Linked DNA regions of Homo sapiens. The protein of the gene in region 3 interacts with the protein of the main gene of each other region in a biochemical or structural test. Each region holds a gene or a part of one and is shown on either strand. Other genes may lie near its edges. The genes, in order: HDAC4, VDR, ZBTB16 and HDAC5.

Region 1 (7,020 bases), on a different chromosome or scaffold from region 3:
CGGCAAAGCCGTGGCACAGTGTCCATCAGACCGCTCGAGTCATCCTCAGGGCCAGGGGCCTCGGCTCGGCCTCGATACGAATCACACTGTGGCCAAGGCGCAATCTGGACATGCCATAGCAGCTGAGCCACCATCACGAGCCGGGCTCTGCATACCGGGTAGGGACGCTGGCCCTTCAGGTCCCTAACAAGCGCAGCATGCCCTGGGGGCTGACAGTGTCCGTGGGAAGCATCACGGTGCTTCTGAGCTTTCAAGAGTCTAATCTCTGTAAACTATGACACAGTCCCTGCAAGGACAAAGGCAGACGAGAGCTTGTTCTCAAACTGTACTAAGGTCCTTCGGGGAGACGTCCACCACACCACGACCTGCTGCAGAGACACCCTGAGCAGGTGCAGGAGCTTCAGAAAGTCCTGCAGGTGCATCCAAGGCCCGGTCAGCAGCAGGCCCCGGGCAGGGGACATACCCTACTCCTCATTCCTCCCAAGACCTGCCAGCAGAGAGGGCTGTGTGTCCTCAGAGCCAGCGGGGGAGGAGGAAGAGGAAAGCTGAGTCTCTGCGGGAGAGACACTCACTCAGCAGATGACAAAGGACTCACTGAGGTGATGGGGTCATGACAGTGAAGCTGGGATCTCAACCGATGCTCACTCAACACCCCAGAGCCATGGAACACAGGACATCACTGCAAATCACTCTTGTCCACTGCAGGCACATTGGCAGTGTGACGAGCAGGAGAGAGCACATCCACCAATCAGACCCTTCACCCCACACCCACGAGAGCACCGAGGAACCAGGAGAAGGATACGTGAAACAAGAGAAGAGGCCCTCCGCAGCTCCCACGTGCCTCAGCTCTGGCCTCCGCTTAACCAGAAGAATTCTGAAAACAGAACTTCGTCAGAACGCAGCCCGCGTGTGCTGAAGCTGGCACGCTGACATGGAAAGACACTCTTCTTCAGGGAGGGACCGCGGGAAGCACTGCACATGGTTGGTTGTGAACTCCGAAGCCCAAAAGGTCAACATCCCCACCAGCTTGGGAGGTGAGTTGGATGCTCCCACACCAGGCCCCATCCTGCCCGGGCCACCATGCCGGGCAGGGGTGGGATGGCCCAGCCCGGCTGCTACCCTCGGATGGCAGCGGGCATGCACGTAACGGCTCTGCAGGTCAGCTGCTGCCCCAGCCAGCAACCGAGCTACGCTGGGCTGTGCTGCACACTCAGGGGCAAAGGAAAGCAAGCTGCTTCAGGGCAGGCACTCGAAAGGCGAGAAGACACAGGCACCCCAGTGACATCTCCTTTGATGCATCCTTCTGACCTGGAGAGCCAAGGGGCGGATTCCAACACAGAGCCCTTGAGCTGGCAAACAAGTGTTCTCCAAAGAATGGGGACTGTGACCACCTATGAGGATTTTTTCAGTGCAAAATCTGATGTAAATTTTATAGTAGAGGGGGTTTTAATATGCCAGAACCTCCCAATGGTTTTCTTTATGGCTCACTTTAAAGGTCCAAAAGGTCAGAGGGCCACCCACATCCTGCAAGCAAGGAGGCACAGTTGGCATCACTAATTAAGATACACCCCGCTTGTGTGGACCCACAGGCCATCTTCCCCTCCTTGTCCACAGCCCCCAGAGGTGGAATGGGGGTCAGCCTCCTTAGAACACTCTAACCCCTGAGCTTACGGGGCTCGGACATGAGTCCTGGGGGTGGGTAAGTCCTCAATAGCCAGCTGGGATTAGCCCCAGGCCACAGGGAGGACTGAGGCTCAGGGGCCCTTGGCCACGCTCTGCTGACCTGCTGGGGGCCCACTTTCTGCCACTTGACTTACATGGCACGGTGCCAGCCAGCAAGGCCCCTGCAGATGGGCCAGGCTGGGCTCAGCCTCAGACCCGGAATTCTGGTGTGTAAACCGGTGGCACTGGGGGTGCCAGCTCGGGTCCCCCAGCGGGTCCCCTCCAGCACGGTTTCTACACAGACTCCTGGCAGGCTTCAGTCCTGACAGCTACTCTACAGAATCCTGGACCTAGGCACAGAGGAAGCTCTCGCCAGCACTGCTAGAAGGAAGGAACCCCCTCCCTTCTGGATGCGGCCCGTCTCAGAGCCACAGGACTGGGACCCCCGGCGTGTGAGCCACCTTCTTCACCTTGCCCTTGTTTTGGAAGCTGCCCTTGCTTTTCATGCAGAAGTCCCCACAACAGCACCACCAAGCATGTGCCCCAAGGAGGGCCTAGCCGCGCCATGGACCACCTGGAGGCCTCCTTGGGATGCATCTGAATGGGCCTGCCTCCACAAAGTTAGAACAAGAGAGATCAGGTCCATCACCCAGCTGGAGCCAGGCACCAGTGCACAAAATAGAAAGAACAGAAGCAAACTCTCCATTAAATGCAAGAAGACTACACATACATGAAAACGCAAGGAAGTCCTTTGTGCAGACCACACCTCCACCCCACCCAGGCAGCCTGCCAGTTGGCCCGGCTCATCACTGGCTCACGCACTCTGGCCTCAGAGACCTCAGTCACCAGGCCACCATCTGGCCACAATGCCCTTTTCACAATGCAGCCCCGAAACTCTGGCTCTGGCTAAAAAGGACCACACCCCATTCCCACCCACCCAGCCTCCCCTTCCTCCTCCTCATCTGGGCCTGGCTCCTGCACCACGGCTCTCCCTACCAAGCAAGCCCTCCAGCCACAGCCCTGGTTCTCAGGATGGTGACCCGTGTGCACCTGCCTGTTTAGCTCCTTTTTCTCCTCTGTCCCTACCAACACCAAAGCCTCTTGTGGGCAGAGGCCAGTTTTCCTGATCAAGCCTGGGGTCATGGGGCTGGCCACTGCGTCTGGCACAGAGAATGTGTTCAACTGAGTCTCATCTCATGTAAAACCTAGTACTTGGGCTGGGGTGTAAAATGAGTATTTGCAAAATAATAACTAATCAATTAGAAATATTCAGGGAACATGGCCCCCAAGGACCACCCCCCCTCCACCCCCAACCCCACCACCAGGGAGGCCAGTGGAGATACCACAGAAACTTCTCTTCCTCAGTTTAAAAAAGAACCGCTCCAGCAAATAGCAACACATAAACCAGATGATGGGCCATTCCCAAGGGAAAATGCAATTCCATCACCGCTTGAACAATACTCCCACTTGGAATGCTGGTTCAGACTTTCAGGTCCTAAGAACTGATTTATTGTTTCAAGCTTAAACATCAATCCAGCAAAAGCACTTGACTCACACAGACGGAGTACTTCATAAACAACAGTAAACTCACAAAGCCCAACACTCACATTTTTAAACAGAGCAGACTCCAAAATGTTTATGTACACAAACATATTAATGTATCATATTAAAATTATGACGCTAAATAAGAAGTGATTAAATAATGTCATTAATTCTAATTTAAAACAAGCAGAGAAAAACTTCTTCATAAAAGCACCACTCGCCTCCTCACACGCCGGGGCCCTGGGCGAAGCGGCTGGAGAACAAGCTGCACACACCTGCCTTGGCCTTGGCACAACAGTCGCATTTGCCACTCGACAGCTGTGTTGAAGGCCCTTCTCCCTCCCATTCCTTTCTGCATCACAGAATTCCCTCCACTTGCATTTATGACATCTCCTTAGGAGCATGTAATCTCCAAAATCAGGACCAAGAAGTTCCCAGATGGGGGCAGGGGGTGTCAGGAAACAGGCAATTCCAGAGCACTGGCAAGAACCCCGCAGAGGGGCCAGGCCAGAGGTGGGGCCTCACCCCAGCTCTCCCACCCAAGGCCCGCATTGTGCCATTCACTGGGCTACCTACTCATCCATTCATTCATTCACTCATTCATTTTCTTTCATTCTTCGAGCACCTACACTGCCAAGCACAGGGTACAGAGCAGGCATGAGGCCCTCAGGGCCCCTCAATCCTACAGAGCCCCAGCTAGTAGAAAAGGTGGCATTAAACAACTAAGGTCACAATGAGCTCCTTCCTGAAATTGCACAATGGGATGCTGTTAGAAAGGAGGAAAAAAGCTATTAGGCTAAGTTTAACAGGGGATCAAAGGATGAGAGGATGAGCATGAACTGAGGGGCTGGAGAAGAGGAAGGTAAAGGGAGGCCATTCCAAGGAAGGGGAACAGTGTGTGCAAAGGCCCCGAGGTCAAAGGGGACTTAGAGAGAGCTAGAAAGTAAAGCAGGTGGCAGCTGAAACTCCACAAACACAGCAAGTGCTATCAGATGAGGCTGGTAAAACAGAGGCCAGGATCAGGCAGGCCTTCCAGGGCCCTGAGACCTTAGGATCCTAAGAATACAGGAAAGTCATGCCAGGGTTTCAAGCAAGGGAATGAGAGGTACAAACCTGCTTCTGGTGGAAACCTGGGAGACTGTTTGTAGGATGGGCTGTAGCAGAGCCCGCTCAGACCCCGAGGGTCAGTCCCCACCTTGAAGAGCTTACATGTGAGTTAGAAAAACAAATGCCCCTAAATTCTTCTATTGCAAAGCATATTTATCAACTTGCCAAGGACTTAAAGAGTACTTTTCTTTCCAATGAAGATATCTAAATGTTTTCAAATTACTACTGTAAAAAAGTAATACACGCTTACCAAAAGAATCTCTACAATACCACCATGTATAAAAGAAAAGTGTACCCCGTCTCCTCACCTCTGATGGTTACCTTAGAGACCCATGTACTTAAAACCAGGAGTGGCCCGGGGACTGCTCCAGACCCCGCCTTTCCCTCTTACACTGCACACTTCTGCCTGTCTACACATGGAGGATGCCACAGTGCAGAAATGCCAGCAGGTTTAACAAGTACTCCTTTTATAAATAATGCAGCCCCGACCTCCACACACGTCTGGATATCTACACACTTATCTTCTTTCCTTAGAATAGATTTCAAAATGTAGAACTGTGGGGACAAGGAGAATGGCATTTAAGATTTTGACACTTAAGACTTTTCTAGAGAGCAATTCGGTAATCACTATTTTATGTTTATACATTACATATATAAACTTTTTTGGGGGGGACAGCCCAGGGTCTCGCTGTGTCACTCAGGCTGAAGTGCAGTGGCAAAATCACACCTCACTGCAACCTTGACTTTCCAGGCTCACGTGATTCTCCTGCCACAGCCTCCCAAGTAATGGGGACTACAGGCACACGACGTCATGCCTGATTTTTTTTTTTTTTTTGTAGAGATGAGGGTCTCACTATGTTGCCCAGGCTGGTCTTGAACTCCTGGGCTCAAGTGATCCTCTCACCTTGGCCTCCCAAAGTTCTGGGATTACAGGCATAAGGTACCTCGCCCAGCCCTATTATATTTTATATAATAATACATATGGGTCTCTCCAGAGAGCAAATGATAATAAATAACAGCCAACATTTATATCATGCTTACTACATGCCAGGCCCTATTCAAGGAAATTTCCATACATTAACTTAAACTTTGCAAAAACCTTACAAAATAGAAATTATTATTATGACCAGCAACAGGTATCATCAAACTCGCCAATATGATAGGCATAAAGGGAATCTCCTTCACACTGAATTGATTAGTAATGCTAACCTTTCATCACTGGCACAATGATTCAATGTTCATACGTTCTGCTCATCTTGCAATGGTGATCTCATGCTCTCCTTATTGGTCTGTAAAAGCTCTTTATATATTGACTGTTAAGCTTACACAGGCATAATGTGGTATGTATTTTCTCTCTCGTCTCTTAGCCCGGCTGACGGAGTCTTTTGCCAAAGAGATTTTTTAAAAAACTCTTATCCTATTAAATCTGTCAAGATTTTCTTTAAGGTTTCTGGGTTGGTATTGAAAGAGTAGATTAACTTGGTCCTCAAATGCTTTCTTCCAATAAAATCTTCCAAGGTAATCAACAGACCGAACAACAAACACTAAAAGCTGCTCCGGCTGAAGTGGACTTGGAGCATTAGCTCCCTTCCGTCACCCCCACCTGCCTCCAGGCGTCCTGGGGACTTTGCAGGAGAAGAACATGATGTCTTCTAGTTCTGCAGTCCCACACGTGACATAAGACAGCATGAGAAAGCCAGAAGTACTGCCCAGACCTATGAAACGCGCCTGTAACAGCGCCAAGAACAGTCAACACAGCACTAGAAAGTCTAACGACACTGAACTAGAAAGGTATTCCAAATCGTCCTCTTCTCTAAGAGGCTGTGTTCGCCCAAGCACCTCGACAAGCTGAACTTCAGCTTCAAGGTCACCACCAGCCTAGAAGCAGAGGCACGGAGAGGAACTGGCCTTTGGGACTGGAGATGCAGGGGGTGGCACATGGTCCATTTCATTCTACCCCCAGTTCCTCCAGAGGTAGAGCCCACCTGCAGGACTGTGCTGACACCTACATGGTGAGTGCATGAAACAGCACGAGCCCCAAGCAGGTGCTCATCTGGCGTCAGCTACGGGAGCACGTGACAGCTGCTCGTGGCATCATCTCCTTGCTCCAGGATACATCCTCATCCCCCGACAGTGATACAGGAAGTCACGGTGGGGGCAATCTATGCAGGACCCCGACCTTCCTTCCAGGAAGTGAGTAGGAGGTGTGTCAGCAAGGCCACAGCAAGGGGACATGTAGGACCCTGACCCTCCTTCTAGGAAGTGAGTAGGAGGTTTGTCAGTGAGGCTGCAGCAAGGGGACATGGCCATTTAATGCTGCAGGCACCATGGCCCTCATGCCACCCCAAAACAGGTCCCACTCTTCCCACGCACAGAAGCCCAAGAGAAGAAAACTGACCGTATGAAGAGAACTTACTGACCTTAGTGACACTTGTTCCCACAGAAACGCTTATGAATGAGTTAAGGTCTGTTCAAAGGTAGCATCACTTTTGACATGGCACCCCTCATCTGACCTGAACCAGAAGGTGCAGTACCCGCCTCTAACGTCAAGGCCAAAAACCCAGAGCCCACCACACGGCAGGGCATATGCTGACCACCTGAAATCAAAACAAACACTCCCTCCAAATCCATCCTTTCCGACTCCTTACCCCAGGACAGACTGGGGGCTGCCAACAACAGGGCAGGGGCTCAGTCTCGGTTCCACAGCCC
Region 2 (7,592 bases), on a different chromosome or scaffold from region 3:
AAATGTATTTCTGTGAATCTCATGTTCCAGATTCTAAATGAGGGGGTCCTATGGTGAGAGGGACTTGTTCTGTCATTCAGAAAGGCAAGATTCCATCAACTCCCTGGATGGAGTCTTCTGTCAGTTGGCTACTCAAACAATAAAGTCCGCCTAGCCCATGATCTAGGGCAGGATTTTTTTTTTTTTTTTTTTTTGAGACAGGGTCTCACTCTGCCTCCCAGGCCTCAAGCATAGTGGCATGATCATAGCTCACTGCAGCCTTGACCTCCTAGGCTCAAGCGATCCTCCCACTTCAGCCTCTCAAGCAGCTTGGACTACAAGCGCACACCACAATGCCTGGATAATTTTTAAATTTTTTGTAGAGATAGGGTCTCACTATGTTGTCCAGGCTGGTCTCAAACTCCTGGCCTCAAAGTAATCCTTCCACCTCAACTTCCTAAAGTACTGGGATTACAGGCCTGAGCCACTGTGTAGGGTAGGATTTTTAATACTGTATTTTGGGTCACAACCCATTAATGGGCTGTGAAATAAATTTGGTGGATCCCAAAAGGAAAGGAAGGAAGGAAAGAAGGAAGGAAAAGAAAGGAAAGGAAGGAAGGAAGGAAGGGAAAAGCAAGGAAAGAAAGAAAGGAAGGAAGGCAGGAAGGAAGGAAGAAAGAAAGAGAGAAAGGAAGAAAAAGGAATGAAAGAGGGAAGGAGGGAGGGAGGAAGGAAGGAAAAGAGGATAGAGAAAATAATAGAAAACATTGTAGAACATCTTTTGTATCAGGAACTTATATATATTCCTGAGTAAACTAGGTCACAGTAAAAACTTATTTCTTATTATGGGTTGCAGTTAAAATTTTGAAAAATACTGTCCTGGGAAGACCCCTTGGTTTGCTTTCATTGCTACAGCTTCTTACATTTATTCATTCTATTTTTACCATCTGGAACATAAATAAGGAGAGTCATCCCTGATCCTTTTTGTCTTAACTTGGGTTAGGAAATATAAATGAATTAATCTTTCTGAACTTAACGTGTGTTTTTTAAAAAATCTCTAAAACAAGGGAACAAACTGAAAAGATGGCCTGGTCCCTTCTGTCTTTCTAACTCCACGCTCATGTCTCTCAGAATGTTCTCTGGGTGTTTACTGAAGAGAGGCTTCTCTTCAGTCCTACCGTGCTCATAACCATAAAATATTTAAGGGGGGAAAATGGCCCTAAAAAAGGGAAAAACAAACAGTCAGATGGGAGTGTTCCAGAGAGAGCTCAAAGGGCACATTTTTACCTGCAGAGCAGCCTTTAGACAGCTCAAAAAACCTCTGTCCATGGGGACAGGGTCTCTGGGAGACTCACAGGGACAAAGTGACCCACTCTAGCTCTGACACCACAGCAAGAAGTGCAGAGAGCATCAGCCAGCCTCGAGGACAGTGGCCAGGCTGCAGAAAAAGGAAGCCCAGAGATGAGGACAGGCTGCAGTCCTGTGGCCTGACTGTAGCCACAACTGCCCAGGCCATCCCCAGGTGCCTGGAGCCTGGCAGAGAGGTCAAGAGACCAGGCCCTGCCTTTCTTTGGACTCTGTGGAATGAAATGCACAGGAATGAAATGAATGAAACGAAATCCTCAGCCTAGTACCTCTGGAATCTTTCCATCAAAGTCAGATGCACCGGGAAGGGCTCTTTTGTTTCTATATAGATTTTTGAGTCTATAGCACTATAGCAGAGTATCTAGCACACCACCAGACTTGGCTAATATTAACCAAGCAAGTGCTTACGAGATATTCCCTGATGTAATTTGGCAGAGATGAGTACTGACAAAAAACAATCTGTACATCCCAATAAAGACCACTACCCATCCCAGGGATAAGTGAGAATATGAGAAATGTTAACTTCAGGGAAAAGAAAAATTAATGTCTTCTGCAGAGGTTCTGGTACCTGGTTTATGGAGAAGTCAAGATAGGGGAATTTAAAACTATTAACTCTGTAGTGCAGGAATGGTGCTTGTCATCGAGGCATCAAGAGAACACGGTGTGGGACAGCAACCTCCCTTTCCAGTTGTGTACCTGGCTAGGGAGAAGTAGGGTCCAGAGACAATTAGGGATTACAACAGAACACAGGAGAAGTGAATCTCATATGATGTTGCTTTTCTACTTTCACAAAATAACCTTCCTTCTAAGAATAAAACAGGCAAAAAAAAATCTATCTTTGTTCAATGTAAATACAAGATGGTTCATTAGCAGGTGCCAAACCATGCAATATAGAAAATGCATGCGCTACAAAGACCAGAGAATTGACAGTTCCTTTCCTGGAGATGTTGGAAAAGCCTGATGGAATAGGCAGGACCTGAAAGAGGAGAGGGTCTGGAGAGGTGGATGAGAGAGAACAGTTCAGGTATTGGGGGAATATGGGAAGAACATGGTTACAGACAAGGTGACGGGGCTGATGACGGCATGTGCTGGGGACCGTGATGACATCTATAATCTTGCCCATCTGCCAAACGCAGAACCTCTGAGTTCTTCAACTCTGTGAAAAGTGCATGCATGGAAATTTTTTTTTTGTTTTTTAGAGGCAGCATGAAACAGTGGGATGTGCAGAGAGAAGATCTGGGTCCAGTAGCTCTGACACTCCTCAGCTGTAGAAACCTTGACAACTCTGCACATCAGTTGTACAATGGAACGGTATTTTTTACTCTTCATGTCTGAAAAGGCTATGATAAAGATCAAGTAAGATATTCCAAAGAATTTTTAAATTATAAAGCAGTTTACACATGTGAATTACAAGTACCTCTCCTCCAACAAAGGCTGTGAAAAAAGACTAACTCTCAGTTACTACGGAATACTTAGTACGCATCTTCCACCATCTTTTGATAAGGTTTATTTGCAAGATGTCAGGCCAGTCAAGCACCACAAAAGTGACTTCTGAGTGTTCAACCTCTTTCAGAGGCTCATGGGACTTGCAGAGAATGTCCCAAGGTATTGGTGGTTGGAAATTTCCTCTTATGCTTTTCTTCCCACAAGAATCACCGCTAGCTTTCCCACGATGCTTTGGGCAAGGGGATCCTTCCTATTACTTTCATTACAGGTAGAGAATCCATCCATCAGACTGGCAGGACCTCTAAAGGGGCACTTCATCTGTTTCTCAGAATAAATGGTCCATTCCCAAGTTCAATCAAACGCTATGCCTCTCTTCTGTCTTTTGTTTAAGTCTTCCCAGAAAGTTGCCATGATACCTCCATAATGAACTGTTGCAGTGCTTAACAAACTTCACTGTTGGAAGGTTCTTCCTTCTATTTAATCTCAGTCTATTTCTTTTAACCCTATTATTGAGTTGTGAGGGGCTGGTTATGATGTAGTCCAGCATAGCTGTCTCAGAAATGGTTCAGAGACCATTGCACCAGCAGATTTGCTGGGCTCTAGCACTAGTCCTTCATTGATTAGCTGAGTCATGTTGGGCATATCACTTAAACTTTCTATGCCTCAATTTCCCACCCTTTCACCTTGTCCCTCTGAGCCATGGTTTCCTCCTCTGTAAGAGGCGAATAGCAATATCTTCCCTGGCTAAAGGAGGTCATCGACTGCTGGATGATTTTGTGAGCATTTCTATTCCAGAAGATTATGTTGTAATTACTATTTATTTATACATTCTCCCACTGCACAGTGAGTTCTAAGAAGAGGGAACCCCATCTTTTTCACCTGTCCTCTAGCAGATAGAGCGGTGCCTATCACACAGTCAAGGGAAGCAGAGAATAACTTTAAGCCAAAATTTCCTGTGGTGAGTTTTCCGCAGCCATCCACAATTCCAGGTCTCAGGAGGTAGTCTTTATCTTTTCCCCTCACGCCGATGCCACGGGGCGGGGGGGGAAGGCGGAACTCGGGACCAGGGACCAGGGAAGCTGAGACTCAGCTCCCTTGGGTGAGATTCGCGACAGGCCGGGAACGTGGTCAGCCGCGGTCGCTGCCAAGGTGATATCGGGTGGGAGCAATGACGCAACTCCGGTTTCCACTTCGGCCCCCCGGGATATTTTACCCTAATCTGTGGGATCAGGCTGAGCTTCCTGGCGTTCTGCAGCAGTAACAGGTTGGCGAGCGGAGCCCGGGATTTCCCATTCGTGCGGAGCTAGCCGCCGGTGCCAGTCGGCAGGCGCCCCCCAGCGTCCCGCGGACGACGAAGTCCTGGCCTGGTCAGCCCAGGTGGGGGTGACGCACCTGGCTCAGGCGTCCGCAGCAGGCTGGGTAGAACCACGGCAGGAAGGGTGGGGGGCTGCATCCCCGATTAACACAGGCTGAAGCGGGTATCCGCACCTATAATCATCGACAACTCTGTCCCACAGAGGGCAGAAGCGTGCCTTGCCCTATGGACGACGGTCGATGAAAATTTCACGAGTTAGAGTATCTAAGGCTACAGCGTGGCCTATAGGGTGGTTGATTCCAAGTCAAGATGGTTGCAGCGCCAACGGAGCTCCTGGCAAGAGAGGACTGGACCTGTGGGCGGGGCGGAGGGGCGGGGCGGGGCCGGGGCGGGGCCTGACCGAGAGGCGGGGCCAGGTGCTGGGCTGTCTCTGCTTGTCAAAAGGCGGCAGCGGAGCCGTGTGCGCCGGGAGCGCGGAACAGCTTGTCCACCCGCCGGCCGGACCAGGTGCGAACCCGGGAGCAGCGGGAAAGGGGGTCTCAGGATAGGGACTCGGGGTCGGGGCGTCTGGGATACCGGGGCCTGAGCGCCCGGCTGCGAGCATTAGAGTCTAAGTCTCAGCGGTAAACTTGGCTACTGAGGTCCGGGCTGTCGTGCCATGAGGCTGGGACACTAAGGGGCACTGAGGTTTGAGAAAGCTGAAGTTCGTGCCAGGCTGGCGAGGGGAGCAGCGACATCCTCGGCGCTTAGGAGAAATGCTCCGCTAACACAGTGCTTAGCACTTGGGCAACAAGAAGTATTTGTTTCCTTCTTCTGTCGGGGCGCCTTGGCATGGAGTGGAGGAATAAGAAAAGGAGCGATTGGCTGTCGATGGTGCTCAGAACTGCTGGAGTGGAGGGTGTGTAACCTTATTTATTGTCTTACAGGGCCCAGGTATGGTCACCTGTGATGGTGGAGTTGGGTCTTTTAAGTAATTTTTTTTTTTTTTTTTTTTTTTTTACTTTTCTTTGAACTACCAATGAGTTTAGACCTAATTGGCCCTATTTTTTTTCAGGACAGCCTGTCAATAGATGTTCAGAGGAACTCAGGGGCAAGCATTTAAATGAGGAAGGGGCTCAAGGAGTAGTTTCTGTTTGAAAAGTGAGGTGCCCTGGATCTGTGGGTGGTGGTGAGGAAGATTCAGAAGTATCTAGGAGGGAACAGCCTGTGGTCTCCAGGGCCAGTGTACAACTGCCCCTCCTTCTCTTCACCCAGGGACCAGAGTCTGAGACCTAGCCTGGGCTGGGGGAGCCTTAGGTCTCCAAGCCCAGACCCTTCTCACAGTTCCTCCTCCTTCTCCTCCTCCTCCTCCTCCTCCTCTTGTTCCTCCTCCTCCTCTATGCGTGCGGTGAGTGAGTCAGCCTCCTGTCTGGGCTCAGTTGCAGCCAAAGGGGCCAGAGCCCAGGCAAGCAGTTGGGCAGGCATTTTCTGAGCATTGCAGAAGCTCTCCTGGGCAGAGTTCAGCTCTGCTCCAGCTCCCTGCTGGAAGGTGGTCTTCCTCATGGGCAGGGGCTCAGATACCCAACACAGCAGTGCTTATGGAATGGCTATGAGATGATTCTAGCAGGAGGTGACCGTGAAGGGATAGTGGCTTTATGATAAATCTACATCTCATCTTTCTCCTGGGATAAGGAGGTGCATCCCAGCACTGCAGGCTTTTCCAGCCCTTCCTTCCATTTCTGCCTAGTGGTCTCATTAGCAGCCCATCTCTGCTAGTGAAGGGGGTGAGCAAAAGAAATTAGGAAAGTCTGGGGCCAGAGAAGTCATGGTGTTGGCAAAGAAGGCTTTAACTCAGGCTAGGGAGTGAGGGTGATTTGCTGAGGTAGAAATGGGTTATCTGAACATTGGAGCCTCAATTCTATGGACTAAGAGTGTTGTGTGTTGAGAGACCTGCCGTCCCTTCCCTGTCCAAGTGCTGGAGGGAACTGTGAGTCTTTCTGAAACAGTCTCAGGGCTGGCATGCAGCCAGACCAGAAGGTAGTAAGACTGCACATTTCTCCCTGGCTTTTGTTTTGGGTGCTAGAGATCGTTGAACAGAAGTAGCCCTCCCTGCAGAGTCCGTGGCCCCCACTCAGCAGCCTCTCTGGACCTATTTGAGAAGAGTCCTGGGAGGCCAATCCAGCTGTGGGGCTGACTCAAACTGCAAAAAGCTGGGGAATTCACAGTCTATGCTCTGGCTGGGTCCCATGGCTTTGGGTTTGGCTGGTCTTGATCAGCTGTGACTTGGACCCTTACCAAGCTAAAGGAGGGACTAGAAAATGGGGTAAGAAAGGAGGGGAAAAAATGAGAGTTAGAAAGCCTTCCCAACCCTTTACTCCTCTTCGGCAGAGGCCATCAGACTTTGTTTGTATAAACATTATGGAAGGTCGGGTGCTGTTTGGGGTGCCCTGATAGTTTGTGTTTATGGTTTCTCAGTATTCTTCCCCTATTTGACCTCAAAACTGATCTCTTTTGTAACTAAGCCCCAGAGGAAGCTCCGAGAGGACCTCCTGAACCCCTACACTCTACCCCCAGAACAGATAGCAGGTGTCCAAAGCCCAGGCTGTGAATGGAGAAAGGCCTGGGACCGAGTGGGCTACATCAGGTGGCTACTACATCAGGTGGTTATCTAAGACACGAAAGGGAGTTCCCATTGTTTCATTCCTTACCCCACATCCTAAGGAGGCACCGCTGTCCTGGCTGGAATAGGCATCTGGAACCTCTGCTAGAAACTCGCTGTTGCCTGTGCAGCAGTCAGGTCCTAGGGGCCAGAGAGCCAGAGACGGGAGGACCACCTAGATGACATTTGGTGTGTTGCTGAATAAAGAATTACAGGGCTCCAGCTTCCATTTGTCCCTGCTGCAATTCTGTTTTGGATGCAGGTAGAGGGAAATAAGGAATTGACCAGATTTGATTAAGAGCCTCTTGTGTGCCCAGCATGACTCCAGGCCCTCTGAGGGATAGCAGGAAGCAGAACCCACCAGACCAGGCCCCTGACTCCAAGACAGTTTGAGCCCCAGGGTGGGCAGCAGTTCTCAGGCTCTCCCTCCACTATTGTCCAGTTCTGAGAGGATCCAGCTGGGCTGAAGCCAGCCTGGCTGCCACTCTGGGCCACCAAGGCCTTGCTTGTCATTTTGCTTCCCTCTGATTTGTCCCTAACCTTTTCCTGTGTCAGTGCCCTCCTAGATATGCTAGAAAGAGTGCCTGTGTAATGTATCTTGCAAACTGGGATACTTCTGAGAGTGAAAGGGGATGCCATGCATGGTTATACCAGGACAATGGACATAAACCCAAACTTTCCAGGGAAAAATGGAATATTAATCACCCTAGTGATCATCACTCCAAACTCAGCAGAGGTCACAGCAGTGATGAGGGGATGATAAGGTTGGGGGAGGCTTAATGCTCAAGGGAAAACAGGGGTAGCTTAATTCTGAGGACAGCCCCCGACACCCTAGCCTGCTCCCTGGTG
Region 3 (7,020 bases):
CGAACAATCAGCTAGGCTGAAACGCCAGCAAATTGTTTAATAACTCACATCTAGTCTCTAGATTTTTAACTCGCATGCACCAATAGCTTTTCTTGTGTCTCATCCACATCTCCCCCACTTTTCCATTTTTTTAAAAATACTTTTCTATCATCATAGCTGTTAGTTTCTAAGCAGAAAAATGGGGAAAGTGGATGCTGAGTCTCAGAGGCTCCCCTTTCTTCCCCTGGGAGCCTTGGTTGGTGGATACGTGACCAAGGAGCACCCCTGCACCTTGTGGAATGTCCCAGGAAGGGGAGAGAGACCACTGTAGGGACATCATAGTGTTTCCTTTCCAGCTGGTGACCATATGACTTCCAGCCTGTTGGCCAGTTGTGGAACTGGCCATCTGGGATTTTTTGCGTGCCACTCCTCCCTTGCTGTCCCACCTTTCTAGGATTTTCTCTCTCCCTTTGCCCTGGCAGCCTCTGCCCTGGTCTGGTCCCTACCCTCCTCCAGTGGCCCATCAGCCCTCTCGCTGCTTCTAACCGCTTGCTGCTGCTGTTGGTCCCCATGTGTGCCCAGAGTCACTGGCTTCAAACACAGGTCAGATCGTGCTAGCACCACTCGTCTTAGTCAAGTCAGGCTGCTATAACAAACTGCCACGGACTGGGTGGCTTATACACAGCAGACATGCATTTCTCACAGCTCTGGAGGCTGGGAAGTCTGTGATTGGGGTGCCAGCATGTTCAGGTTCTGGTGAGGGTCCTCCTCCTGGTTGCAGACTGCTGATTTCTCGGTGTCCTCACGTGGTGGAAGGGGCTAGCTAGCTCTCTGGGCCCTCTTTTACAAGGACACTCATTCCATTTTAATTACCTAATTATCTCTCCCAGGCCCCACTTCCTAATACCATCACCTTAGGGGTTAGGATTTCAAAAAAGGAATCAGAGGGGGACCCAGACATTAGGATCATAGCAACCCTCGGTCCTTTCATGGCACTGCATTGCCTGTAGAATAAAGTCCAACCTGTCCTGCCTGGCATATGCAGCCCTCTGATCTGACTCCCATCACCCTCCCAGCTTGTCTCCATCCCCAGGGCCTGACCTTGGCCCCATCTGCTCTGACATTTGCCAGTGGTGTCTCTCTCCTTAGCCTGGCACATGTGTCCCAACTTCTTGTCCTTTGCTTCTCAGATACTCAACTTTTAAAAGCCTAACTCAAAATCTCAGGAGCTCTTGGAGTCGCCCTGCCTTACCCTCTGGGTGGTTGTTAACTCAGCATCTCCCACTAGTCTGGGACCCAGTTTCTCTGCTCAGCCTTAGCCTGCCCCTGGTCACCTAGCACAGTGCCTGTACTTGGTAGTGGCTCAGTGAGTTGGCTGAATGGACATGAAGTGGGTTCAGGCCACCCTGAGAAGTAGGGACAGCATAGTGGGGCAGTATCGAGGGGCCTTGGAAAGGCCAAGGGGGCAGAGTGCTGCAGTCTGCCTTGCTGGGTGTATTGACACTCAGAGCACCTGTGGGTCTGGCTGTATAGGCTGAGATGTCCTATTGGGAATGCCATTCATGTTCCCTCTGCCCAGGTTCCTTCCATGCCGGGGATCTCAGAGGATGCATAAGGAGAAGCCTTGGCTCTTAAAGGGCATGGCTGGCCTCCAAAGCCTACTCAACCCTACTGATTTAAGGTAGCTGTTTGAACACCTGGCTTAATTTGGGCTCTCTGTGGGGTGGGGGTTAAGGGCAGAGAGGGAGTAGATGCTGGGGGCTCTCAAGTTGAAGGAGTGGGGGCCACCGGGCACAGAACGCATTGCAGATGCACTGTCCTCCTGTGTACGTCGGCCAAGCAGGGAGGGACATTGAAGACTCACTGTCAACTCTTGGCATTGCTTCTGTCCAGAAAGATACATCTCTCATTATGTCTCCCTCCAGCAAGTGAAGCTGAGTAGACTACTCAGCATTTCTGAGAGACCTTGGTGGCTCCCAGTGGGATTGGAAGGCCTCAGAGAGCTATGCCTTGTGACCCAGCCCCAGCTACTGCCCACTCCTGGCCAGGGGTTCTCTAGCCATTGCTGGAGCTGTACTAGAGGCAGGAGTCCTCTGTACCATCCTTACTGGGCCTCTTCCAGGGTAAGCCCAGACAGGCGGGCAGTCAGCTCCAGAGGTAGCATTGAGTCCAGCCCCGTGGTTTCTGAAAGACAAACCGAGATATTTTCAGATCCCAACTCTGCCTCTTTCTGTGTGATCTTAGGCAAGTTATTTAATCTCTCTTTTACACTGGTAAAAAGGGGGATAAGAATGCCTGCCTTGTAGGATTGCAAGTTTTAAATGAACTGACAACATAGATAAGGTACCTAGCATAACGCCTAGATTCGCTCCCCTTCCTTCCTGCTTTTTGTTGGCCAGGAGCAAAATCCTGTGCTGGCTGTTTTTCTCCTTCCCTGCTCAGCCTTCCTGACTGCTGGTGAGATGGGGCGTGGCTCCAGGTGCTTAGACTTCAGTGTCTGCAAAGGGAAGGGATATCAGGGTGGGTGTGAGGGGCACAGAAGTGTGGGGGACAGTGAGAGGTGGGCCTTGCCTGCCTACTAGTCCATCCTAACCCAGCCATGAGTGGGACGGAGGTGGTGAGGACCAGACCTCTCACTTGCTATCTCCATTGATGGCCAGGAAGGCAGGGAGGTTCTTCGTGCCATCCCTTCTCTTCCCCCTACCTTCCACCAGACACTTCCCGATTCCATGCTGAGCAGCCCATGGCTTCCAGCAGCCAAAGCTTTACCCCCTCCCCCCACCCACTCTGGACTGGACTGACAGATGCTAGGCCTACTTACGTTTCCTGCTTGTGCCTTCCCACACAGGGGACAGCGGTGTGGGGCCAAGTGCAGGTGATATTGCCCAGGCACCAGCACAGAGACACACAGATGGGCCTGCCGGGGAGCTCCTGTGCTCAGGAAAACAGAGCCCAAAAGGGTGGGCACTGAGCTGCCAGTTAGGACTCAGACACAAGGTCAGATACTTCCTCCTGTGGTGCTGCAGCTGGAAATTTCGGCCATGGCTCCAGAGCAGTGTCAGAAAGGGATTGGTAACAAACAGAAAATGGCAGCCTGTATGTGTGGGGTACTTTGGGGATGAACAGCCAGTTAGAATTAAATGAAAATCTCACATCACTCGCTAGCTTTCAATCCTTTGACAGTTGCCCATCGGGTTTAGGATGGAACTAAATCTCTTGACGTGGTTTGCAAGACCCTGCATGGCCTGGCCCTTGCCTTTCCCTTTAGCCTCCTCTTCTTCCCCAGCTGCACTGCACCATTCCTCTGTCTGATCCTCCCACCGGCCATGTTTCCTCCTGGCCCAGAGTGTTCACAGACACTATTCCATCTTCCGGATTCCGCCATTCACCTGGTGTTCTGGGTAACGTCGGTCATGAGAGCAGGGACTTTGCATGCTCTTCCTTGGTTATATCCCCAGTGCCAAAAAGACAGCCTTGCTTGTAGAAGGCATCAAATAATACTTGTTGAGTGAATGGACCTAAGATTCATGCTTTAGTGAGTGGAGAAGTAGTTAAAAAAAAAAAACAAAACAGGATCTGTAGCTAGTCTTGGGAAAGCATTAAAATCTAGGGTGTGTGAGTGTGAACCCCAGCCCTGCCACTTACGAACTCTATGGCAGGAGTCCCCAACCCCCGGGCCATGGTCTGTGAGGAGCTGGGCTGCACAGCAGGAGGCGAGCGAGTGAAACTGAGCTCCGCCTCCTGTCATATTAGTGGCGACATTAGATTCTCACAGGAGCATGAACCCTATTGGGAACTGTGCATTCAAGGGATCCAGGCTGCACACTCCTTATGAGAGTCTAATGATAAATGTAATGTGCTTGAATCATCCCAAAGCCATCCCCCAACCATACGTGGAAAAATTGCCTTCCATGAAACCAGTCCCTTGTGCCAAAAATGTTGGGGACCACTGCTCTGTGGGATTTTGGCCAAAGTACTTAATCTCTCTGTGCCTCAGTCTCCTTGTCTAAGGGATGAGGATAACAGAGGCTAGCTTTTTGAGTTTTGGATTTATATTAGTTATGTTAGAACAATGGCTGGCCCATAGTATCTTTGTTATTGTTTTTTCTCGCAGGGTCTACCTTGCCTCCCCCACTTTTTGCCCTGTACTCTGTGAAGTCCATCTGGTATATGCTGTCTTAGTACCTTGCCGCCTTTTACATACCACCCGACACAGTTGCCCACTACCCTTGCTGCTGCGATGTATTTGATCAATGTCTATCCTTTAGCTTTAGCTTCCAGAGCTCGGGAACGACGTCGATTTTGCCCATCACTGGGGCCACATACTGGGTGCTCAGTGTTGCATAGCCTGGGCCCACTCTGGATTTGCCCCTGAGCATGGGGATTTGGAGGTGTGAGTCCCGACACTGGCTCTCACTCCAGATGGGTAAAGAATGCACCTTGTATTCCCACCTTTCTGAGGCACCCCCTCTCCTGTCTCCCACAGGCACTGACATGGCCGTCTTCTGTCTGCTGTGTGGGAAGCGCTTCCAGGCGCAGAGCGCACTGCAGCAGCACATGGAGGTCCACGCGGGCGTGCGCAGCTACATCTGCAGTGAGTGCAACCGCACCTTCCCCAGCCACACGGCTCTCAAACGCCACCTGCGCTCACATACAGGTAGGTCAGTCCAGCTGATGGGTGGATCTGGGTCTCTGGGAGCCAGCGTCTATATTTACCTCCAAGGACGTAAAGTGGAGGTGGTGGGCTGAGTCAGCCTTCAGTCCTTCTGCTCAAGGCTTGGACGTGCAGAGGCTGCCCGTCGTGCAGGTAAATGTGGACAGTTCTCCCAGTCCCCTCCTGTGGACCGTCGGTTCAAAGTCTTTCCGTGTTCAACACAGGATGCTCATTAAAAAGGCAGGCTCTTGGGTCCCACTCTCAGAACCTTTTATTCCATGGGTCCAGGGTGGGGTCCCAGATTCAGCATTATTAATATGTATTCCCAAGGGATTCTCATGTAGGTAGACCCAAAATGAATTTTGAGAAAAACTGACCTGCTGGGTCTCTTAACATTGTCTGCCCTGCCTCCCACCACTCTTGATGCCCCGCCGCTCTATCCATACACATTTCTGAAGTCAGCTTCGGGCTTCTGAGGGCAAGTTGAAGCAGTGATCCTACTTTCCCCACAGTAACAAAGGCCTGTACTTGGACCTTAACCCTGTTTAGGGAAGACAAGGAGGGCATTTAAACGATGAGCAATGAAATATCACTGCTCAGCCAGTTCCAGGTGATGGGACAAGGGAGGGGGTACAAGGTAAGGAGGCTGGGCCAGGTGCTGAGGGGCTGGCCATTCCCTGCCACCAGCCTCTAGGGCTTGAGGGATGGGGACACTTGGTCCCTGATGGCCAAGAGGCATTTGCTTTCCTGCAGCAGCTCCCAGTTTTCCCTAACAGGGGAGTGGATGGCTTAAATTCCTTATTTTCTCTATGACAAAACTGGGGCTCTGCTGAAACTACCTGGTTAAAGGAATGCCCATTTCTGAGTCTGCCTTTGTGTGCTGTGTTTGTAGGGAGGGTTGGGGTCAGGTCTCTATCTGGGTATATAACAGAGCGTATACTTGTAAAAACCTCTGCATGCCACGTAAAGGAACAGTAGGCCCTCTCCTCATTTTGAGAGTCTTGTCACAGCTCAGAGATTGAGTATGCAGACCAGGTCTTGCATGGGTGGCAGGCTCTGCTAAATAAGGGAAGAGCTTTACTTCTCATGGACTGAGCTGGCCTGGCCAGCCAGCAGCAGGTATCCTCATTAAGGAGCCTTCCTGGCTGTCACTTCTGGATGCCATTTTGTTCAGGGGAGCACATTGTCTTAGCATCACCAGATTTGCACAGAACTACTTAAAATTTCTGGGACAGGACGGAGGTAGGGCCCAGAGGGGTGGGCTCAATAAAAAGGGCCCAGGAGAGTGGGATGTTGACAAGGACTTTCTCTACAGCGATTGCGTAAGCATTTCCCCTGCAGCTATATGCACCTTCCTATGAACGCCTCCCTCAACAGTTCCCCAGGTTCATTCGGTCTTATGAAAGATGGCTAGATACCTTTCAGCCACTTCTGAGCATGCCACTGGGTCCAATCAGTTGGCTTCATGTGACTTGAATGATCTCAGTCCTGCTAAATCCACCCAGGATGTGCCCTGCTCTGACCATGCCACCTTCTCAGAGCTCAGATATGAAAATGTCACATGCTCTTGTGTCAGTCATGGCTCAGATCCACGGGGAGGGGCTGTTTCCAGAGTTAGGGAGAAGCCCTTGCTTATTCTAGGAAACACGGAGCATGTGTGCTGCCTATGCACACACAGAGAAACACCCATCAATTTTCACACCAGCGAGGCACTGCGCACACAAGCCATATACAGGCTGTGCACACCCCACACACAATGCCTCATTAATATTCCGTTGTTCTTGGCCCATTTGCTGCTGGGGCCGGGTGTTTAGCATCAGCAGCTGTGTTTGGTAGGTTAGTCCAGCCGTGCTCTTGGCATTGATGGATCCCTGATTCACACGGCTCATCATATAATAAACTCTCAGCTGTGCTGAAGGGAGGGGCTGGAAGGGAGGGGCCTGAGGAGCCAGCAGGATGGGGCTGGGGTGGGGAGGACGACAGACACTGGGCTTGGCCAGTGCCAGAGAAAGCACCAAGTAAGGACAGATTGGGGGGGGCGGGGTCACAGGTGCACTGGGCAGGCTGGAGGGGGCTCTAATTAGTCTCGTTTGTCCTGCACTTAATGTCAAGCTCATTAAAGAGGCTACAGAGTTAATCAACATACCACAAATTGGATTTTGAGTTCTGCAGCCAGTTTTGTGTACATTATGGCCACACTGACACAATCAGCTCTCAGGGTGAAGATTTCACGCCAGGTGCACACCGTGCTTCCAAATCGGGATGGGGATACGTGTGTGTTGGTGACTTTTTCTTTCTTTTTTTTTTGTTGTTGTTTGTTTTTCCTTCTAAGTTCTTTTTATTCTTTTCCCTGGGCAGACTCAAGAATTTCCTATTTAAACTCATTT
Region 4 (7,892 bases), on a different chromosome or scaffold from region 3:
GGGAGGCTGAGGCAGGAGAATCACTCGAACCCTGGAGACAGAGGTGCGGTGAGCCAAGATTGTGTCATCGCACTCCCGCCTGGGCAATAAGAGTGAATCTCCATCTCAAAAAAAAAAAAAAAGTTACAAGCCAAGACATCCCACCCAAAGGTCAAAGGCACTAGGAATTTATCTTGACCCCTCCTGACCATGGCCACAGCCTACCACTTTCCTCAGCCTCTGAGAGCTTCTGTTGCCTAGTGCCTCCCCCAAGCTAGGCCAACAGAAGCCCAGAAGGATCAGAGCCATGAAGGGTGGCTGACTTGGATGTCCAGGCCCCAAACCAGGGAAAGGGGGAGGGTGACAGGGAAGGAAAAAAGGCACCAGGCTGACAAATTCATTTTTGCAATCGGCCCATTTCTGTTTGTCTGCTCAGACGCAGCTCCAGGCATCTGCACAAGCCAGATGGAGGAGGCTGCTATTTCTAGAAAAAAAAAAAAAAAAAAAAAGAGAGGGGGGTGGTGAGAGGGGAGGAAGGGAGGAGGCGGAGGCAGAGGGCAGAAGACGGGGTCTGTTTGCCCTAAAACCTCAGGCAGAATGATACCCTCTTCCCAGCACTACCAGGCAGGGTCCCCATTCAAGAAAGGGCTGCGGCTGGGCCTGGGGTGAGGTGGGATAGGGAAGAAGAAAGGCAGAGAAAGTTTAATTAGCTAAAGTCGGCTACAATAGGCCCCCTCACGGGCTACATCAGGTTTTCATTCATGAGCAAGCTACAGTGCTCCAAAAATGCCAAGAACCACCCCCCCTTGCTGTCTCCCCCTTCCCCCCCCTACTGCCACCAACAGGAGTGCGTCCTCTAGCAGGCTGGCTGAGCCTAATGCTGTGTTCCAGACATCCCTCCTCAAAGGGATGTGAGTAGGAAGAATTAATTATTAAAGAGCAGCTGGTACTTCAGCACCGACTGCACTACCCCCAGCTCCTATAGCTGATGCCCCCTCCCCCACTATGCGGGAACACAAATGACCCCCGCCCAACATTCCCAGGCCCCATTTCTAAACACACAATTAAGATGCCACCCCTACGGAAGGCAAAGCAAACCTTTGTCTCTGCAGCTACTTGGGGTGGGTGGGGCATGTGAAACTGCTGCCCCCCTCCAAATTACATGATCCAGCCAAAGTAGGAGGATATATTGGAAAAGAAGGGGAGGCTGGCACAGAACTAACATTTCCTCCATCCTTGCCCCCAAGTAACCCACACTTGAGATCTGTCTCTCTGGTCTCTGGCATGCCCACATTCCCAGGACAGAGTGGAGATACTGGGGGCCCATTTCTCTAACTCAGAGAGACCCCTACTGCTTTGTCAAGAAAGCCCAGATCCAAGTTCAAGTGAAGAGAGGGCAAAGAGAGGAGTCAAGAAAAGAGGAAGGAGACAAACCAAGATCTCCCCAAGCTTTGTGTTTAGGGAGGGAGAGGAAGGAGGGAAGACTGGAATGAAGAAGCAGGCAGCCCCCAACATGGCTCATCCACCATCCAGCCCAGCCAGCCTAGCCCAGCCCAGCCCAGCCCAGCATCTCAACAGCCAGCATAGGCTCAGGGTGCCTAGGACTGGGGAGACTGAAGACCATGCCTGCCTGCCTACATCCTCTGAAACTAAGAGGAAGCCAAAGGCAGGACCCAGACCCAGACTGCAATCCTGCAAGGCAATCTGGCTAGGGGTCCCTCTGACCAAGACTCCTGGATCTCACCCTCCCCCCCACCTCCTTTTGTTCCCATAATCTGGCTCCATCCTCCCCTCCCAGTTGGACACTGAAACCAATCACCACCACCTCCCCAAGCTCCAAATCTAATCCCAGATCCCAAAAGCATGGTGGTCACTGACTGAGTGATGGGTCCCTTTTGCACCCTCCTAAAAGCAACTGCAGCTGTTACCTTTCCTCTTTAGGGACACACCTCATTTCAGAAGGGGTATCAGCCAGGGGTATCAAGTGGTCATCTCCTCTCCCAAAGGAAGCACCCAACCTCCCCACTTCAACAGCCCCCACCAAGCTCCCAGATTAATTACTTACACCCAGCCAGTTCTCATCTTCCCCAGGGCCCCAGGGAAGGGTGGGGTGGAGAAGCTGACTCCCCCCAAGTTAATAAGGCACTGGTAGTGCCCCCGCTTCCATGAGATACAGATCCAGGATGAAAAATGGGGGGCATCCACCCAAGACAAGAAGGGGTTGGGGGGGAGCTCCATTTCATCTCCTAGCTCTCGCATCCTGGCTCCAAGGTGTCAGACAGGAGAAGAGGGTGGCAACAAACGCAGTAACGCCTCACAGGAGACGGGGTGAGAATAATGGGAGAGAGAAGTAAGGTGGACTCCGCAGTCCCCCTCCTCATGCACGGAAGTCAAGGACATAAAATCAAGGATGCGTTCGTAGCTATGGGGAGAAGCGCTCTGGGTGGACAGCACCCCTCACCTCAGAGTACCAAGAAAGGGGTGTCCAGCGAAGAGGGGTCTGCACAGAATCCGGGTGCAGGGCTCAAATGGCTCTGCAACGCAACATGCGCCGCCAGGGAAGGGGCAAATCAGACAACCCCGGCCGGTCTCCGAGCCATTTGGGGGCGCAGGGCGCGAGAAGGCGGGCCCCTCCCTTACCTGTAGGGAAGGCGCCCCTGTCTGGGAGGGGCAGGGAGGGGCGCGCGCAGCAACCCCGATGTCCCGCTCACGGGCTGCCGATGCTCCCGGGGGGCGCCGGCTGGCTCCCAGGGCCGGGAGGAAGGAAGGGGGGCGCGGAGCGCGGCGCGCGCGCTGGGAGCCCGCGGACAGAGACAGCAGGAGGAGGGGGCGCCGCCTCGCGTCCCGGGGTCCGGGGAAGATGGGATCTGGGCCGGGGCGGCGCGCTCACCCGCTGCGGCTCGAGCTCCGGCTTCGCGGGCGGCGGCGGCAGCAGCGGCGGCGGCAGCGGCGGCAGCACCTCCTCGACGGCTCCTCCATCTTTGCGGCGGCTCCTCCGGCTCCGCTCGCCGCCGCCACCAACAACAACATTCGGAGACGTCACTCCCGTCACGTGACCCGACCCGGAGCTAAAAATAGACCCAGACCCCCCCCCCAGCCCCCCCCGCCTTCCCCTTGCCCGCAGCCACCACCAACCCCTCCCCTGCCTCTCGGCCCTCCCCGCCGGGCGGGGCCAGCGACGCCATCGTGACAGCTCCTTAAAGGGCCAGTGCCCAGCACAGGGTTCGGCCGAGACGGGGTGGAAGGGAAGGGATCGGAACCCAGCGAGCAGGAGTGGAAGGATCGCTGCAGGGGCCGAGTATGGATGCTGGGGCTCAACCTTTGGATTGTAAAAGTTTCCTCCTTGCGCTCCCCGGACTTTCTTTTCAAAACGTGGATGGTGCAATCGTCGCTTGCCTAAGCTGCTCCCCTAACACGCCCTCCCGCGGTCGGGGAGGGGACCTGGGGATAGATTCCCAGGGGCTGGGAGGGCCACCGCAGCCTCTGCAGCGGGGCCTGGCTGCGGGTGGATGGTTCGGACAAGTCTCGAACTCGCCAGCTCTGACCGCACACACTGCATCCGTGCCAGGGAAAGAAAAGCCTGGGAAAGGCCAGGGTATGGCTGTAACACTCCAAGGCCTTCAAAAGGGCAGACCAGCAGACCAGGAGCCGGAAAGACTTCCCTGACTTTGGTGCCATCCACGCTACATCTCCTCTTGGTACACAGTATGAACATGTTTAATTAGACCTAGACAATTTGTCAATGACCCAGCAATTCCACTAACAAAAATGTATTCCAAATAAATAAACGTTGTTATGTTAAAAAATGAACATGAGATTGTTTGTAATGATGTGAAAAGTTGAAAACAACCTAAATATCCATCGATAGGGAATTGGCAAGCAAAGCAGGAGACATTCATTCAGTAAAATATTATCCAGACATTAAAAGTTTTATAGGGGACCGGGCATGGTGGCTCACGCCTGTAATCCCCGCACTTTGGGAGGCGGAGGCAGGCGGATAACCTGAGGTCAAGAGTTTGAGACCAGCCTGGCCATTATGGTAAAACCCCGTCTCTACTAAAAATACAAAAAAATTAGCCGGGCGTGGTGGCAGGCGCCTGTAATCCCACCTACTCAGGAGGCTGAGGCAGTAGAATCCCTTGAACCTGAGAGGCGGAGGTTGCAGTGAGCCAAGATCGTGCCATTGCACTCCAGCCTGGGCAACAAGAGTGAAACTCTGCCTCAAAAAAAAAAGTTTTAAAGGGGCCAGGTGCATTGGCTCTTGCCTGTCATCAATCCTAGCACTTTGGAGGCCGAGGCGGGAGGATTGCTTGAGCCCAGTTCAAGACCAGCCTGGGTAACATGGCGAGACACTGTCTGTATTTTAAAAAAGAGGCCGGGCGTGGGCCGGGCATGGTGGCTCACGCCCGTAATCCCAGCACTTTGGGAGGTCGAGGCTGGTGGATCACGAGGTCAGGATGTCGAGACCACCCTGGCTAACACAGTGAAACCCGTCTCTACTAAAAATACAAAAAATTAGCCGGGCGTGGTGGTGGGCGCCTGTAGTCCCAGCTACTTGGGAGGCTGAGGCAGGAGAATGGAGTGAACCCGGGAGGCGGAGGTTGCAGTGAGCAGAGATCGCGCCACTGCACTCCAGCTTGGGGAACAAAGCGAGACTCCGTCTCAAAAAAACAAAAAACAAAAACAAAAGAAGAAGAAGAGGCCAGGCGCGGTGGCTCACGCCTGTAATCCCAGCACTTTGGGAGGGCGAGGCGGGCTGATCACAAGGTCAGGAGATCGAGACCATCCAGGCTAACACGGCGAAACCCTCTCTACTAAAAATACAAAAAAAAATTAGCCGGGTGTAGTGGCGGGCGCCTGTAGTCCCAGCTACTCGGGAGGCTGAGGCAGGAGAATGGCGTGAACCCTGGAGGCAGAGGTTGCAGTGAGCCGAGATCACGCCACTGCACTCCAGCCTGGGCAACAGTGTGAGACTCCGTCTCAAAAAAAATAAAAAAATAGCCGGGCGCAGTGGCTCATGCCTGTAATCCCAGCACTTTGGGAGGCCGAGGCGGGCGGATCACGAGGTCTGGAGTTCGAGACGAGCCTGACCAAAATGGTGAAACCCCGTCTTTACTAAAAATTCAAAAATTAGGCGGGCGTGGTGGTGCACTTCTGTAATCCCAGCTTCTCAGGAGGCTGAGACGAAACAATCACTTGAAACCGAGAGGCGGAGGTTGCAGCGAGCCGAGATCGGGCTATTGCACTCCAGCCTGGGCGGGTGACAGAGCGAGATTCCGTCTCAAAAAAAAAAATAAAAATAGGCTGGGCGCGGTGGCTCACGCCTGTAATCCCAGCACTTTGGGAGGTCGAGGTGGGCGGATCACAAGGTCAGGAGATCGAGACCATCCTGGCTAACATGGTGAAACCCCGTCTCTACTAAAAATACAAAAAAAATTAGCCGGGCGTGGTGGCGGACCCCTGTAGTCCCAGCTACTCGGGAGGCTGAGGCAGGAGAATGGCGTGAACCTGGGAGGCAGAGGTTGCAGTGAGCTGCGATAGCACCACTGCACTCCAGCCTGGGCGACAGAGCCAGACTCCGTCTCAAAAAATAAATAAATAAATAAAAAATAAAAAAGAAGAAAAAAAATTTTATAGGTCTATACCGACCTGAAAAGATGCCCGTGATATATTGTTTTCTTGAAAATCAGGACTCAAACAAGTATTACTGAATTGTTCCATTATTATAAAAACAACAAACTAGATTCATATGCCTGAGTATATGTGTATATCAAAAAGCCTGGCCAAGGGCCAGACCTGTGCTCACGCTGGGGGGCTGAGGTGAGAGGATAGCTTGAGCCGGAGAGGTGAGCTAACTAAGAACACACCACTGCACCCAGCCTGGGTGACAAAGTGAGATCCTGTCTCAAAAAAAAAAAAAGCCTAACCAGACATGGTGGAATGGTGGCACACACCTGTAGTCCTACCTACTTGGGAGGCTGAAAAGGGAGGATTCATTGACCTCAGGAGTTCAAGCCCAGCCTGGGCTACATATGGAGACCCCATCTCTAAAAAAAAAAAAAAAAAGGAGGACTGGGCGCGGTGGCTCATGCCTGTAATCCCAACACTTTGGGAGGCCGAGGCGGGCGGATCACAAGGTCAGGAGATCGAGACCACCCTGGCTAATAGGGTGAAACCCCATCTGTACTAAAAATACAAAAAATTAGCTGGGCGTGGTGGCACATGCCTTGTAGTCCCAGCTACTCGGGAGGCTGAGGCAGGAGAATCGCTTGAACCCAGGAGGTGGAGGTTGCAGTGAGCTGAGATCACACCACTGCACTCCAGCCTGGTGACAGAGAGAGACTCAGTCTAAAAAAAAAAAAAAAGAAAACTGAAACAAAAAAAGCCTAGAAGAATAAATACCAGAATGTTTGTCTTTACTTTGTCTTACTTATTTATTTATTTTGAGACAGAGTCATTGTATCTCCCAGGCTACAGTGCAGTGGCACAGTCATAGCTCACTATAACCTTGAACTCCTGGGCTCAAGTGATCCTCCCAACTCAGCCTACCAAGTAGCTAGCACTACAGGTGCGTGCCACTACATCCAGCTAATTTTTTTTTTTTTTTTGCAGGGTCTCGCCATGTCACCAAGGCTGGAGTGCAGTGGCGCCATCACAGCTCACTGCAGCCTCGATTTCCCAGGCTCCAGCGATCGTCCTGCCTCAGCCTCCAAGTAGCTGGGACCATAGGTGCATGTCACCACACTCAGCTAATTTTTGTATTTTTTGTAGAGATGGGGTTTCCCTGTGTTGCCCAGGCTAGTCTTTTTTTTTTTTTTTTTTTTTTTTGAGACGCAGTCTCATTCTGTCACACAGGCTGGAGTGCAGTGGCATGACCGCGGCTCACTGCAACTTCTGCCTCCAGGGTTCAAGCGATTCTCCTGCCTCAGCCTCCAGAGTAGCTGGGATTACAGGTGCAGGCCAACACGCCCGGCTAATTTCTGTATTTTCAGTAGAGACAGGGTTTCACCATGTTGCTCAGTTTGGTCTCAAACTCCTGACCTCGTGATCCACCTGCCTCAGCCTCCCAAAGTGCTGGGATTACAGGCATGAGCCACTGTGCTCGGCCGCTAAGGCTAGTCTTTTTTTTTTTTTTTTTTTTTTTTTTTGAGACAGAGTTGCTCTGTCGCTTAGGCTGGAGTGCAGTGGTGTAATCGCAGCTCACTGCAAGCTCCACCTCCCGGGTTCATGCCATTCTCCTGCCTCAGTCTCCCGAGTAGCTGGGACTACAGGCGCCCGCCCCCACACCCGGCTAATTTTTTTTGTATTTTTAGTAGAGACGGGGTTTCACCATCTTAGCCAGGATGGTCTTGATCTCCTGACCCCATGATCTGCCCACCTCAGCCTCCCAAAGTGCTGGGATTACAGGCGTGAGCCACCGCACCCAGCCTTTTTTTTTTTTTTTTTGTCTCGCTCTATTCCCCAGGCTGGAGTGCAGTGGTGCGATCTCGGCTCATTGCAACCTCTGCCTCCCGGGTTCAAGCAATTCTCCTGCCTCAGCCTCCCGAGTAGCTGGGACTACAGGAGCGTGCCACCACACCCAGCTAATTTTTGTATTTCTTTGGTAGAGACGGGGTTTCACCATGTTGGCCAGGATGGTCTCGATCTCTTGACCTCATGATCCACCCGCCTCGGCCTCCCAAAGTGCTGGGATTACAGGCATGAGCCACTGTGCCCGGCCTAGGCTAGTCTTATACTCCTGGGCTCAAGTGATCCGCCCATCTCAGCCTCTCAAAATGCTGGGATTACAGGAGTGAGCCACCACTCCTGGCCACTTCAGGGGATTTTACTGCAGCTGGTCCTTTCCTCATATTTGGGGGAAAAAAAAAAAAAGAAACACCCAAAGTTTCTACGTAATCTGATCCCTGCCCATG

What was found.
Region 1: the proteins of ZBTB16 (region 3) and HDAC4 form a complex in vitro, tested with the Homo sapiens proteins (2 studies listed by BioGRID).
Region 2: the proteins of ZBTB16 (region 3) and VDR form a complex in vitro, tested with the Homo sapiens proteins (one study listed by BioGRID).
Region 4: the proteins of ZBTB16 (region 3) and HDAC5 form a complex in vitro, tested with the Homo sapiens proteins (2 studies listed by BioGRID).

The regions. Positions count from the first base shown.
Region 1 is NC_000002.12:239,391,010-239,398,029, forward strand, and holds part of HDAC4 (histone deacetylase 4), read right to left. Parts: intron 1-7,020. UniProt on the Homo sapiens protein: Responsible for the deacetylation of lysine residues on the N-terminal part of the core histones (H2A, H2B, H3 and H4).
Region 2 is NC_000012.12:47,901,975-47,909,566, reverse strand, and holds the start of VDR (vitamin D3 receptor), read left to right. Parts: upstream 1-4,572; 5' UTR 4,573-4,612; exon of another isoform or gene 4,613-4,936; coding exon of another isoform or gene 4,937-5,003; intron 5,004-7,592.
Region 3 is NC_000011.10:114,237,702-114,244,721, forward strand, and holds part of ZBTB16 (zinc finger and BTB domain-containing protein 16), read left to right. Parts: intron 1-4,465; coding exon 4,466-4,636; intron 4,637-7,020. UniProt on the Homo sapiens protein: Acts as a transcriptional repressor. Transcriptional repression may be mediated through recruitment of histone deacetylases to target promoters. May play a role in myeloid maturation and in the development and/or maintenance of other differentiated tissues.
Region 4 is NC_000017.11:44,120,635-44,128,526, forward strand, and holds the start of HDAC5 (histone deacetylase 5), read right to left. Parts: upstream 3,008-7,892; 5' UTR 2,870-3,007; exon of another isoform or gene 2,620-2,869; intron 1-2,619. UniProt on the Homo sapiens protein: Responsible for the deacetylation of lysine residues on the N-terminal part of the core histones (H2A, H2B, H3 and H4).